2 separate regions of the Homo sapiens genome follow, and region 2 is linked to region 1. The links come from fine-mapping of genetic effects on gene expression. Tissue or cell type: whole blood. Region 1 holds a variant in brackets; the other region holds the start of a gene. All regions are shown on one strand. Distances are between the middles of the regions.

Evidence for each region. PIP is the estimated chance that this variant, and not a neighbour inherited with it, causes the effect.
Region 2: it holds the start of PTPN20, and the variant in region 1 is fine-mapped to the expression of PTPN20 in whole blood (TOPMed, PIP above 0.99). The same link has a PIP of 0.9 or more in nasal epithelium.

Annotation. Positions count from the first base shown.
Region 1 is chr10:46,997,463-47,000,151 of GRCh38, forward strand. PTPN20 (protein tyrosine phosphatase non-receptor type 20) reads left to right here. Exons shown (of 11, transcript NM_001042357.5): 10 at 2,450-2,512. Among named protein-coding and RNA genes, the nearest start is that of PTPN20, 87 kb to the left of the region's middle. The variant T/A (reference allele first, on the strand shown) is at 1,642.
Region 2 is chr10:46,909,903-46,912,591 of GRCh38, forward strand. PTPN20 (protein tyrosine phosphatase non-receptor type 20) reads left to right here and starts at 1,526. Exons shown (of 11, transcript NM_001042357.5): 1 at 1,526-1,599.

The DNA of each region.
Region 1 (2,689 bases):
ATACATCCTACTTATTTTCTGGTCTTATTGCTGTACTAAAATGTCAAGTGCTATATTGAATAAGAGTGGTGAGAGCAGGCGTTGTTGCCATCACTGATCTCAGAGGGAAAGCAAACTAAAATTTTATGTTTTGTGAAAGACCCAATGAAGAGGATAAAAAAAAAAAAACAAGCTAGAGAGTAACTATATGCAGGGCACATATCCAACAAAGGCCTTGGATCTAGAATTTATAAGGAACCCTCAAAAATCAATAGTTAAAAAAAAAAGAAAAACAGAAATGGGTAAAAGACATGAACAGACAGTTCACCAAAGAGAACATACAGATGACAAGCACGTGAAAAGATGCTCAGCTTCATTAGCCCTTGGGGAAATGCTAATTAAAACCAGGATGGAGTAGCATTACACACCTATCAGAAAGGCTTATGTAAAAATAGTGACAGCACCCCATGCTGATGAAGATTTGGAAATGCTGGTGAGGATTTGGAGAATTATGTGAAGATTTGGAGAAACTGTATTGCTCATACATTACCCATATGTATGAGACATTGGGAATGTAGACTGGTACCAGCCACTACGGAAAACAATTGAGCAGTTTCTTGGAAAGAAAACAAAAACAAAACTAACTAAAGTTGACATATAACCCAGCAATAGCACTCTTGGGGCATTTATCCCAGATTAATCAAAATTTATGTTCATACAGAAACCTGTATGTAAATGTTCATAGCAGATTATATTCACAGTAGCCAAAAACCAGAACAACCCAGATGTCCTTCAACAAATTGATGGTTAAATAAAGTGGCACATATCCACATCATGGAATATTATTTAGCAATAAAAGGAAGCAAACTATTGTTACACCAACAACTTGGATGGATCTCCAAGTTATTCTGGGTGGGAAAAAAGTCAATCACAAAAGGTTAGCTATTGTGCAATTTTATTCATATAGTGAATTTTGCTATTTCTTCTTGAAATAGCAAAAGCATAGAGAAGGAGAACAGATTACTATTTTCCAAGGGTTAGAGATTGGGGTGGATGAGTGTGACTCTATAGGGATAGCAGGAGGAAGTCTTGTGGTGGAACAGCTCTGTATCTGGACTGTGGTTATAGTTACATGAATCTTCACATATGATATAATTGCATGGAGCTCTGTGCATGCACACATGCACACATACACACTCTCACACACTCACTAACAGTTGCATGTAAAACTGGTGAAATCTGAATTAAGCTTTGTGGATTGTCCCAATGTCAGTTTCCTGGTTTTGATATTATATCTTGTTAAACAAGATGACACCATCTGGGAAACTGGGTGAAAGATACACAGGGCCACCCTGTACAACTTCCTGTATATCTGTATTATAAAATAAAATTTTTTTATGGCAGATATGGTGGCTGACGCCTATAATCCCAGACCTTAGGAGGCCAAGGCTGAGGATCACTTTAGGCCAGGAGTTTGAAACCAGCCTGGGTAACAAAAATAAAAATAAAAAAGTTAGCTGGGCATGGTGGAACGCACCTATAGTTCTTGCTACTCAGGAGGTTGAGGAGGGAGGATTGTAGTTTGAGATTGCAGTGAAATATGATGACACCGCTGTACTCCAGCAGCTGAGACAACAGAGCAAGACCCTGTCTCTAAAAAAC[T/A]AAAAGTTTTTTCAAAGGGTTAATTAAAAATTTTAATTATAAAAATGATAAGCTATGAAAATAAAGGAATGCTTATTGTTTTCTATTTTTATATGCTTTGGGGTTACAGTTGACAACATTTACATGTGTCCACAATGTCTTGCTGAAACGACTCATTCTCAGCTTGTCCCACATGTGACTCTCCAGGCAAGTTCAGCAACACCTGAGCTGGTCTATATCCTGTTCAGTTGAGCACACTTCTCAGTGCTGTGCCAGTGTCAAATTGCCATAAGAGTTTCTGAGCACTTACTCCCAGTTTCTTGACTCATTGTGGACCAGCAACAGACCTTTGTAGGCCTGCACCAACTCAATGACCACACCCAGCTGTACTGGTGTCCACACACAGTCTGGAATCTAGTGTTGGGTCGACTGTTGCTCCCAGTTTCCGTGTGAGTTGACAGGGATCTTCATATAAGAAACAGATATGCTATTGTTGGGGCCAGAGAAAGTCTTCTGTGCCTTTCCAGAATTACAGTGCTGCTTTAAGTTCTGCCTTTGGATAACAAACAGGGACACACAAGGGCAAATTTATTACTTATTTTGGAGAGCATTTCTTATTATGAATGATTGCTTCCTGCTTTCTCCTGAAAACCTATTAAAATAGTCTTCCTTATCCATTGGGCTAAGTTAAAAATAGCACATTTTCTTGTGAGTGAAAATGAGATCTTTCTGATTAAATCTTGACATCTCTTTCACCCTTTTTGGCAATCTGTGAATTTGTGTTTTTCCCCCATGTGGATCATACAAAATTACTGTCATCTTATTACAGTTCAACATCATGGATATAGTGGCCCAAATGAGAGAACAACGTTCTGGCATGGTTCAAACGAAGGTAAGCTTTCACCACATACATAATAATAAGAATAATGAATATAAAGATTAACATTGCATAACACTTTACCACTTAAAAGCTCTTTTATTGACATAATCTCATTGAATTCCTACTGTTTGAGGTAGACATTAGTTTTGCTCTGATTCTCTGGTATTCCTGACCAAGTACTTCAAATTC
Region 2 (2,689 bases), 88 kb before region 1:
AATGTTGGGCTGGGTGCGTTGGCTCATGCCTGTAATCCCAGCACTTTGGGAGGCTGAGGCGGGCGGATCACCTGAGGTCAGGTGTTCAAGACCAGCCTGGCCAACACAGTGAAACCTCGTCTCTACTAAAAATACAAAAATTAGCCAGGCATGGTGGCATGCTCCTGTAGTCCCAGCTACTGGGGAGGCTGAGGCAGGAGAATCACTTGAACTGGGGAGGTGGAGATTACAGTGAGCTGAGATCACGCCACTGCACTCCAGCCTGGGCGACAGAGCGAGACTCCATCTCAAAATAAATAAATAAATAAATAAAATCTAGTGTTGAAATTTGATCCCCAATGTTGGAGGTGGGGCCTGGTGGGAAGTGTCTGGGTCATGTGGGTAGATCCTTTATGAATGACTTGGTGCTAGTCTCATGGAACTGAGTGAGTTCTTAGTCTTTGTTTTCATGAGAACTGGTCATGGAAAAGAGCCTGGCACCTCCCACCTCTCTCTCTTCCTCTGTCTTGCACACATTGGCTCTCCTTTGTCTTCTGCCATGAGTGGAAGCTTCCTGAGGCCCTCATCAAAAGCGGGTGGTGGTGCCATGTTTCTTTTACAGCCTGTGAAACTGTGAAACTAACAAACCTCTTTTCTTTATAAATTACCCAGCCTCAGGTATTGCTTTATAGCAACACAAACAAACTAAGACATATGGCAATGGCGTGGGTTGCTTGCAGGGTACCTTGGCTGCTACAGAAAGAAAAAGTCTCTGTAGAGACTCACTGTCAGTGACTCACGGAGCAGAAGGCTGGCCTCAGAGCCTGGACAGAGGGTAGCTGTCACTGCTTAACTGCAGTTCAGCTCAAGCATATGGCTCTCTGTGGGACCAGCACTGAAGGCTGGGGGATAAGTGAGGCAGGTCTTGTCACACCTTCAGGGTATCTGGATTCACCAAAGTGGCTCAGGTCAGGACCAATGAATAGAGGTTTGTTCGTCAAGATAAAAAGATTCTGGCTTCCTGTTTTCAGGCAATGCCAACGATTGAATTCCCTCTACATTGACCACCCTTGCTGAAGTTGTCTTAATTGACCTAGCAGCCAACTGACCTCATATTCTGGCACAGGCTCTGACTCCTTTTGCCTATCTGCCCTGCTCTGATACTACAAAGAGACCCCCCCACCCCAGCCCTCTGGGGCCTCATTAGGGGCTTAGAGGGCAGGCGTGGGTCAGGCGAGCATTCCTGGAGAACACAGTCCTCAGTGGTTCAGGATATGAGCATAGCTCAGAGAGCTGTTGACATTATCAGCCTGGCCTGGGAGAGGGGGACCCGCACAGGGTGGTGCACAGGGCCCGCAGGGAATTTACAGCGGCGTCCGCGGCGATGGGCTCTCAGTGCCTTGGAAGACCGGTAGAGGCAGGTTCTGTCTCTCCCGGCCTGGCAAGCAGAGGGCCGCGGCGCAGGGCAGAGTGCCGCGGCGCAGGGCAAAGCTCCAGTGCGCAGGCTCGCGGGCGCAGGTGGGATTGGATAGCGACGAAGGCCGGCAGGCTAGGCGTGGACCCAACTGGCGAGGCTGCTGGGGTTGCAGCGGGACAGTTGGGGCGGCCCCGCAGGCCCAGGTGAGGAAAGGTGGCTGGGGGCCAGGTGGGCAGGGGGCGTGCGGGAGGCCGCTGCGCCGGGCTGTGGGAGGGCGGGCGTGAAGAAGGAAGATGCCGTTGACGTGCAGGGGTCACAAGGCGTGGGTTGTGGCCCTGGCCCGGGAGACTGCCCGGGTGGGCCTGAGCTGTGAAGTAGTGTCGCTGCAGCCAGAGGGCAGGACGTGATTCTGGCCGTGTGATGCCAGCTGCACTGTGACGCGTGTTGGGGCGCCTATGCGAGACGGGACCGGGACAGGAACCCTGTGGCTCTGTGGTAGGGGAATGCCACCAACTCCCTGAGGAGCAGCCGTGTGGTATGATTGGTAAGAAGCCATCATCAGGCGCTGAGACAGCCCAGAACTTCCCAATGACTCAAGGGCGGGTGGAGGTCGAGGGACCTAGAAAGAAAGAACATGAATTCATCAATCCATTCAGCAGCTATTTTGAACGCCTCCTGTGTGCCAGATGCTGTTCTAGAAGCTCAGAATATCTATGAACGCGATAGGCAATGCCCCCATATGCCAAGGCCCTCATATGCTAGCCTTGACTCAAGGAAAACTGTAGGATGGGGTAGGTTTCATTTTTGGAAGTTGTGGAATCAGTACTTATGTTTTGAATGTGTTAGGTTTGAGATGCCCAGTAGGTTTTTCCCAATAGAAGACATAAGCATAGCTGGGAAGAATTTTGCAGAGGACTCTGACCACCTACCACCTACAGGTGCCATGAATATTTAGCACATTTGATTTTTCACATTACCTATTCACCTTCTCTCCATTTATCAGTCACCTGGTAGTTTTTTTTAGTATGGTGAAATATACACACATAAATTATCTAGTAGATATTTGGGTTGAGATATCAAATGTGCTTTTTAGAAATTTAAATCTGAAGTTCTGGAGGATGTCGGGCTAGAGTTAACCTTTGGAATCGGCATCATATACTGTACATAGTATTTAAAATATATGGGACTGGTGAAGACATCTAGTTTAATAGTGTACACAAAGAAGAGGAGGCGAAGCCAAAAAAGGGAGGGAGGTAGTGGTCAACCATGTTGAATGTTACCGTATAAGATGAC